2 separate regions of the Homo sapiens genome follow, and region 1 is linked to region 2. Evidence: fine-mapped expression QTL. A gene starts in region 2. The other region holds a variant in brackets. All regions are shown on one strand. Distances are from middle to middle. Region 1 overlaps OLFML2B (olfactomedin like 2B). Region 2 holds the start of OLFML2B (olfactomedin like 2B).

Region 1 (4,386 bases), 41 kb after region 2:
GAAGTCAGAACAGGAGCAAAGCATAGTGGTGTGAAAGTTGCCAAAGATGGGCATGGTGGAGGCTCAAGTGTAGGGTCAAGTGTAGGGTGGATCAGGGGAGTAGCAGGAGATGGTGTGGAAAAATGTTTGGGGTCAGGTTATACAGGGCTGTTAAAGCCTGCCGAGGAGTCCAGACTCTAAATGGATGAACAGCAAAGGTTTAAGGGGTGAGGCATCACTAGATCAGCCCAAAACCTCCATCCACCTCTTCTCCACCAGGAAGGTGCAAGGACACTCTCTCCACAATCACGGGGCCGACCACCCAGAACACATATGGGCGGAATGAAGGGGCCTGGATGAAGGACCCCCTGGCCAAGGATGAGCGGATTTACGTAACCAACTATTACTACGGCAACACCCTGGTAGAGTTCCGGAACCTGGAGAACTTCAAACAAGGTACATGATAAAGATCCAACCCAGACTGCTCCTTCCCTTCCCCACGTCCTCTGTTTTTATCACAGCCAGGCCTCTTTGGGTGGTAATGACGGATAGGAAGGATGACACCTTCTTCTGATGGCTAAAGGACCTTTCCTTGGAGAGCGGTCCCCCTTCCCCACTCCCTCACATTCTCTGCCTCTCAGCTCTGCCCCTCCTCCTGAGCTCCTGGGACATGGAAAAACCTCCGAGTCCAGAAGACAGGCTCCCTTTCCCATAGCCCTTGACAATTTATGAACCACATTCATGTATATTAGCTCCCCGGATCCTTGAAACAGGCAGATGGGAATTGTCACTTCCCTATGACAGATAAGGACACTGAGGCACGGACAGGTTGAGTGATGTGCTACAGGATGCTAGAAAGTGGCAGAGCCAAGACACAAACCTGGGTTTCCAGACCCCTCGTTGATCATCACTCACTTAACCACATGGGCTGCCCACCCTCTGCCATGCCACTCTGAAGCCTCCTGTTTTCTCCCCACCTGCAGGTCGCTGGAGCAATTCCTACAAGCTCCCGTACAGCTGGATCGGCACAGGCCACGTGGTATACAATGGCGCCTTCTACTACAATCGCGCCTTCACCCGCAACATCATCAAGTACGACCTGAAGCAGCGCTACGTGGCTGCCTGGGCCATGCTGCATGACGTGGCCTACGAGGAGGCCACCCCCTGGCGATGGCAGGGCCACTCAGACGTGGACTTTGCTGTGGACGAGAATGGCCTATGGCTCATCTACCCGGCCCTGGACGATGAGGGCTTCAGCCAGGAGGTCATTGTCCTGAGCAAGCTCAATGCCGCGGACCTGAGCACACAGAAGGAGACCACATGGCGCACGGGGCTCCGGAGGAATTTCTACGGCAACTGCTTCGTCATCTGTGGGGTGCTGTATGCCGTGGATAGCTACAACCAGCGGAATGCCAACATCTCCTACGCTTTCGACACCCACACCAACACACAGATCGTCCCCAGGCTGCTGTTCGAGAATGAGTATTCCTATACGACCCAGATAGACTACAACCCCAAGGACCGCCTGCTCTATGCCTGGGACAATGGCCACCAGGTCACTTACCATGTCATCTTTGCCTACTGACACCCTTGTCCCCACAAGCAGAAGCACAGAGGGGTCACTAGCACCTTGTGTGTATGTGTGTGCGCGCACGTGTGTGTAGGTGGGTATGTGTTGTTTAAAAATATATATTATTTTGTATAATATTGCAAATGTAAAATGACAATTTGGGTCTATTTTTTTATATGGATTGTAGATCAATCCATACGTGTATGTGCTGGTCTCATCCTCCCCAGTTTATATTTTTGTGCAAATGAACTTCTCCTTTTGACCAGTAACCACCTTCCTTCAAGCCTTCAGCCCCTCCAGCTCCAAGTCTCAGATCTCGACCATTGAAAAGGTTTCTTCATCTGGGTCTTGCAGGAGGCAGGCAACACCAGGAGCAGAAATGAAAGAGGCAAGAAAGAAGTGCTATGTGGCGAGAAAAAAAGTTTTAATGTATTGGAGAAGTTTTAAAAAACCCAGAAAAACGC[T/C]TTTTTTTTTTAATAAAGAAGAAATTTAAAATCATCCCCCAGTGCACTTTTGTTCAGCACCGATATGTCTGGCCAGGTGTTGGATCCCGCTCCCGGAAGGAGACGAGGTCTGGTGTTCCTCAGAAATGTTCTCTAGCTGAAGTGGCCTGCGTCCAAGTTCAGTTCCTAGGAGCTCCTCCTCCCCTCCTGATAGGGGCTTCCTGGTGGGGGATTTGGAATGAGCGACCCCCGTGTTCTCTTTAATTTTGTGGCATTGATCTCTTCATTTTTCTGTCACACTGGCTTCCTTGCTCTGTTCTGCTACTCCTCTGATCACTTCACCCAAGGTTGGGGAACCCGTTCATTCATTAGCCCTGCTTCTCGAGGTCTGGTCTTAGGCACTGTTGAAAATACAAAACTGAGTGAGTGCGACCTTGTTCCCACACTTCCTTAAGAAGTTCTCAATCAATCCATCTCTCTCCCCTTCTCTCCTTCTGCCCATAACCCTGTCTGCCTTTTCCTGAACAAGCTCATTCGGCCAGGCTTTCCCTCCCACCTTCCCTTCCAGGAAAGGGGCCCCTTTCTGAAACAAGGTCCTTGAGGGAAGCACTTGAGGGATGGGGAAGAACTGCAGCCCCTCCCGGTGCAGGGCTGAGCCCTGTGCAGTGCCTGCTGTCCACAAGTGTGATTTTTTTCCTCCACATTACACAAAACAGGAGATAGAACATCTGAAAAAGCCTGAACAGGCATCTCCTGAGGTTATGAAGGAGGGCAGGACCCAGGGATGCCGCAGGGAGATCAGCACAGCTCTCCTGTTGCAGCTCCCCTCAGCCTCCTCCCGACCCCTCTGTAGGCGGCCTCACTTCCTGACCCCAAGTTAGAGGGTCACACCAGGGAGCACCCCCGCTGTGTAGAGAACAAGGTGGGGGGCCATGAGGAACAGCCCTCCAGGGAGGCCGGCTGCAGCTTGTCTGGGTGAATCAATTGGTTTTAGAGCCAAACTGCCCACTCAGGCCAGGTGAGGACACTTCTCAGGTTCCTCCCACATGCCGGAAGGAGGAAGCAGAGGCAGGGGTAACCGCAGGCCTGAAGCTGGGTGGTCGTTAATGTTTTCCCTGAGCACAACATCCAGGACTTCTTCAAGCAGCTTTCTTTTGTGGGGTTAAACTTTGGAAACACCAAGACTTAAACACCAAGATTTAAACAAAGAATGAGTTTCTCCAAAGCCTAAAGAGCAGAATCATGACCAGGCTATGCTCCACCTGCTGCCGCCTAGGGCAAGACCTGAGACCCGCAGCCCCACCCTTCTGGGCCTCTGCCCTCACCTGTAAAATGAGGGGGTGTTTCCCAGCCCTCAGACTTGCTGGCTGAGTCTTCTCCAGCTCTATAATACCTCGTCAAACTTAGAGCATTTTAATTGCTTGATACTGATGGGAAATATATTTATTTTTTTTCCTGTTAAAAGACTTCCCAACAGTATATTTCAAAAGTAGAGAAAAAATTCCTAACAATTTATCCTTTCATTCTTTTTACATTCATTGATTTATGTGTACATTTATTCATTCAGTAAATATTTATGGAGCCCTGACTGGGGATGGGAGTAAATAACACAAAGTCCCTGCCCTCCTGAAGCTTATATTCTAGACAGGGAGAGAGAAAAAGAAATACATTACGTGTAATGTGACAGGTGACAATAAAATAAAGCAGGGAAAGATGGGAAGGGAGGGGGTTGAAGTTTACAAGAACAGGTCCGAGAAAGCCATCTGATCAGGGGATATGGAGCAGAAACGGAAGGCAGAGGGGTTGAGCGAATCTCAGACCTGAAGGCTGTGGGCAAGCAGACAGTAGGGAGCTAGAGGCCTGAAGGGGCCCCACGGGCACCCCAAGTGAGGCTGGTGGAAGCACCTGCAACCAACCCAGCACCCTGGGCAGGAACAAGGTGCATTCTGCTGTCGCTCGGCATCCAACACAGTTGAGCACAGCTGGGTGATGGTGCGCAGGCCTTCTTCCTGCCTGCTTCCTTCCCCACCGTGAAGATGGGTGTTTGATGGAGAAGACCATCTCCAGGGGCTGGGTCTTAGTCCCAGCTCTCCAACTTGGCATTTGTGAAACCTTGGATAAGACCTCTCTGAGCCTGTCTGCCGTCTGTAAAAAGGACCACATTCTGTCTGCAAGAAGGGTAGATTCATGAAGATTCAAGTAAAGCAAGGCAAGTAAAAGAGTGTAAAACACTGGCCGTTATCACGGTCTAAAGTGAAATTCCTTAACTTGATTTCCCAAACCAGCTCCGCCTTTGGCATTCCCTGACGATCTCCTGGTCCCCTGGGATATAAGCTTAGGGGCCCTCTGTTTACTCCCTGCTCCCGGGGTCTCCATAACAACTTAATTACCCGG
Region 2 (4,386 bases):
TATTTGACTGAGACATTCCTAGAAGGATTTTCTATCACTTGCAGTCAAATGCACCCTAATGGATACAGAGATGGTATTTATAAAGGTAACTGAGCCTACACCCAGTTGGACAATTCGTAATTTCCATTCATTCAACCAATATTTATTTAGTGTCCACTTTGTTCTAGGCACTGGTTAAACTCTGAAGATGTAATGGTGAGCAAAACTAACAAGGTCCTTGCCCTCTTGAATTTATAGTCTGGTGGGGAAGACAGGCACCCCCAAAACAACCCACAAAGGAGGAATATAAATATCCATCTCTCCTGCTTCTATGAAAAAGAGGTACATGGTATTATGGGAGCATTTAATAGAGAAATTATGCTGGTGGTGGAGTCAAGGAAGGCTGCCCTGAGAAGTGAGCAGCCATCTGAAATATGAATATGCACATTCAGGATTATGTCTTTGCCCAGAATGCTCTCTTTCTCTCCCCTGCCATGGCCCCCCCTCCCATCATGTTGCCTTATCCACTGTTTTGTTGAAACCTCCCATCATCCCAGTCATCTTCAGTATCATGCTTTCATGAAATCCACACTGACCTTTCCACTAGAAGTGACCTATTCCTTATTTAAACCCCATGAGATATGTTCTTACTCTGCCTCACAATTTCAGTGCTTGTTCTGCTTACCTCCTGACTCCCACGCCCACTTTGTAAGATGTGGACTATCTCATCTTCCCATTAAATGTCTAGCAACCTAGCTTGTTGTCTTGCACTTAATCAACATTCAATGCTTACTGTAATTGATTTTTTTTTTTTTTTTGAGACCAAGTATTGCTCTGTAGCCCAGGCTATAGTGCAGTGGCGGATCTCGGCTCACTGTAACCTCTGCCTCCAGGGTTCAAGCGATTCTTCTGCCTCAGCCTCTAGAGTAGCTGGGATTACAGGTGCATGCCACCAGGCTAGGCTAATTTTTGTATTTTCAGTAGAGATTACAGGGGTGAGCCACCACACTCCGCCCCTTAACTGAATTTTAAAACTACACTTTATCGGTGGGGCACAGTGGCTCACCCCTGTAATCCCAGTGCTTTGGGAGGGCAAGGCGGATGGATGGCTTGAGGCCAGGAGGTCGAGACCAGCCTGGCAACACGGCGAAACCCCAACTCTAGTAAAAATACAAAAAATTAAACGGGCATGGTGGCGTGCGCCTGTAATCCCAGGTACTCTGAAGGTCGAGGCACGAGAATCACTTGAACCCAGGAGGCGGAGGTTGCAGTGAGCCAAGATCATCCCGCCACTGCACTCCAGCCTGGGTGGCAGAGCAAGACTCTGTCTCAAACAAACAATCAAATACACCACATTTTATCAATGTTTACCCCCATATAGTTTCAGAAAAGATTTGATAGCTTACACAGAGGAGGGTGTGTGCATGATGTCCCCACAAACCTAGACACCCAGAGCATTGAATTTTTGTCCATAAACTGAATTTTTTGAAGATTAAAATATACTAATAAGGGTTATTATTATACTTATGTCAACTATTACTTATATGCGCTAGTTTCCTTAGTTTATTACAACCCTTATTCCTCAGCATAAGAAGCAAGGTGTTTGAATTTCCCAAGGGTGCATAATATCCTTTGAAGGGGCCTGGCTCTGTTCAATATTCCGAGTGACAGTTGTCCAGGATGGCACAGTGCCCTTCCTTAAATTCACATATTGGTAATCTTCACTGTAGGTTTATAAAAGGTTGTCCTCAGTAATTGAGGGACATAGTAACATAATTGCACACTATTGAAAGTGGACTCCCTCTTAGAGATAATCTGGTAACAGAGACCCGGAGATTTGTCCCAAACCAGGAAGACAGGAAGAGCTGTTCCCTTTGGTAATCATTTATCAGGCAGTAGCTTTCCCCATGGGGACTCGCGGAGAGTGTCGGAGATGTACAGTCATTCCCCTAACTTTCAACGTTTACACAACTCAGGACACACTCTAGGAAGGAATTCAATGATTTTCCTCTGGGTGGAGGTATTACTAGGTTCTAAAGCCGTGGCAGGCAAGCAGCTACCAACGGCGCTAAGTTCAAAGCTGCCCGAGAACTCGCCCAGAGTTAAGTCAGGGAAAAGAAACGCCTGGGAACAAACGCGCCTTCTCCCCTGCCCCAGGTGTGCTAAAGGACGATGCCGCAGATCCCTAACTAGCTCAGCCTTGGAGCGAGCGCTGGGTGCCTGCGATGGAAAGTCGCTCTTCTCGCCAAGAATGGTCGAACCCCAAAACTTCAGGGACGCCGCTCGGAGTAACTTCTCTTCACTCACTTGCGATCAGATGAGAAGAAAGTAAAGCCCTTCCAACGTCACCCTCAGCCGGCGCGCGGCAGCTGAGTCCCAGCGGGGACGGGGTCCGCCGGGTACCCCTCCGCCCGAGCCCTGTGCGCTTCCAGGTCCTCCTCCTCCGCGCGGTCACTGGCTGCATCTCCGCCGCCCCGGCACAATAGAGGCTCCGCCCTCCTTCCGCGCGAGCTCTCCGCGGCTCCCTAGCCCAGCAGCCCTCGCCCAGCAGCCCGCGCCGCCACCGCCTCTTCCCTCCCCGTGTCCGGTCCCCGTGCGTCCCGAGGCTCCCCGCCGCCCGTCCCGGCGCGCACCGCGGGCGTCTGTCCGAACGCCTTCCAGCCACCTGAGCCCTCCTGCGGGCGACTCGCTCAGCTAGCCCGTGCCCGCCTCCACCTTCTCCGTCATCCCCTCTTCCTTGCGTCCGGCTCTCCACTGGGGCTGCACAGTCGAGGGCTGCTCGCGTCGGGAAGGAGATGCCCAGAGTCTCTGGGGCGCACCCTCCCGTCCCGCTCAGCCGCACCCAGCTTTAGAAGGTGCTCTCAGCAGCCACTTTCGGGCTCTAGCGAGGACACCCTCTCGCAGAAGTCCTTGCCGAGACCCCCCGCCCCAGCCATTCTCTGAAGGGGCTGAGGACACTCTTATCGCGCCCCTCATGGCCAAGCCTCGGCTGCTAGTTCTCTACTTCGCTCTGATTGTGGTTCCGGCCTGGGTGTCCAGCATTGTCCTCACAGGGACAAGCGAGCCCCCAGATGCGCAGACAGTGGCGCCTGCGGAGGACGAGACTCTGCAAAACGAGGCGGACAACCAGGAGAACGTTTTATCTCAGGTAGGATGCAGAGTGCCACGACCGCCCTTCTTGCCCTGGATGGTGGTGAGAGCCAGAAGCTGGTCCTTGCTGAAGTGTTTGAGGGCAGCTGTTTTTCCTTCCATTACCAATGGAAAGGGCTTTTGATTTTTCATGTATCGGAATATTTTCTTAATGGAAGGATATAGGTTCTCCTCGCAAAATCATAGGGTGCTTAAAGGTCATCAAATCAGGAGAAAGGAGAGGTGAAGGAAGGGAAGATGCCGCTCGACTTCTTGAGAAGAAAGAAAACAAAGTTGTTTTTGGTTTCAGGGTTGTAAAAAGTATCTCTTGTCTATGTGGCTGTCTGTCAGAATTGGAATGTGAAAACAGCCGGATATGTTGACCAGGAGGCAGATGGCATATCCCATCGGGAGATACTTTATGGCAGAGGGTGGGACACCAGGCGGGAGCATGGGGTGAAGTCAGAACAGAAGCATGTGTGATGAATGTGAGGTGACCCCCAAACAGAGAGACTGAGAACATGACGGAGTGTACTGGGAGGGGAGAGTGGGAATGCAGATGCAGGCAGCTAGGGCAGACTGTCAGTGGGGGCCCGAGTAACCCATGATAGTGATGGGCTTCGTAAAGTGTCCGTTTACCAAGTACTTAAACTTGTTTTTTCTGACTCAATCTTCAAAACACCCTAATACCCATTTATAGATAAAGACCATAAGAGATACATGGGTAGGCCGGGCGCGGTGGCTCACGCCTGTAATCCCAGCACTTTGGGAGGCCGAGGCGGGCAGATCACGAGGTCAGGAGTTCAAGAGCAGCCTGGCCAATATGATGAAACCCCATCTCTACTAAAAATACCAAAATTAGCCAGGCGTGGTGGCAGGCACCTGTAGTCCCAGCTACTCAGGAGGCTGAGGCAGGAGAATCGCTTGAACCCGGGAGGTGGAGGTTGCAGTAAGCGGAGATCGCGCCACTGCACTCCATCCTGAGTGACAGAGTGAGACTCCGTCTCAAAAAAAAAAAAAAAAAAAAAAAAGAAGAGATACATGGGTAGAGCCAGGGCGTCTGACAGTCTTCAGCCCAGATCTCATGTCTGTAAGGGGTAGTTCTCTCTGGAGTGTTTATTTTGTGCTCTCCAGAGCCGGCATGATGACGTGTGGTGGGTGTCACCAGAATCCTCAGAATGGGGGATGTCTGAAAAAGGATCCTCCAGGGCTGCCTGTACCTTCACCTCCACCAAGCCCTAGGACTGGGCCTTGTCTCCTTCCTGTAGAGAGAATAAT

Evidence for each region. PIP is the estimated chance that this variant, and not a neighbour inherited with it, causes the effect. A credible set is the group of variants that fine-mapping cannot tell apart.
Region 1: its variant is the best candidate, but not a certain one, in a credible set for the expression of OLFML2B in lung (TOPMed, PIP 0.81).

What each region holds. Positions count from the first base shown.
Region 1 is chr1:161,980,853-161,985,238 of GRCh38, reverse strand. It overlaps OLFML2B (olfactomedin like 2B), which reads left to right. Exons shown (of 8, transcript NM_015441.3): 7 at 259-435; 8 at 963-2,047. The coding sequence ends at 1,564. Among named protein-coding and RNA genes, the nearest start is that of OLFML2B, 41 kb to the left of the region's middle. The variant T/C (reference allele first, on the strand shown) is at 2,014.
Region 2 is chr1:162,021,998-162,026,383 of GRCh38, reverse strand. It overlaps OLFML2B (olfactomedin like 2B), which reads left to right and starts at 2,515. Exons shown (of 8, transcript NM_015441.3): 1 at 2,515-3,127. The coding sequence starts at 2,954. RefSeq lists silencers at 1,891-2,185, 2,254-2,403.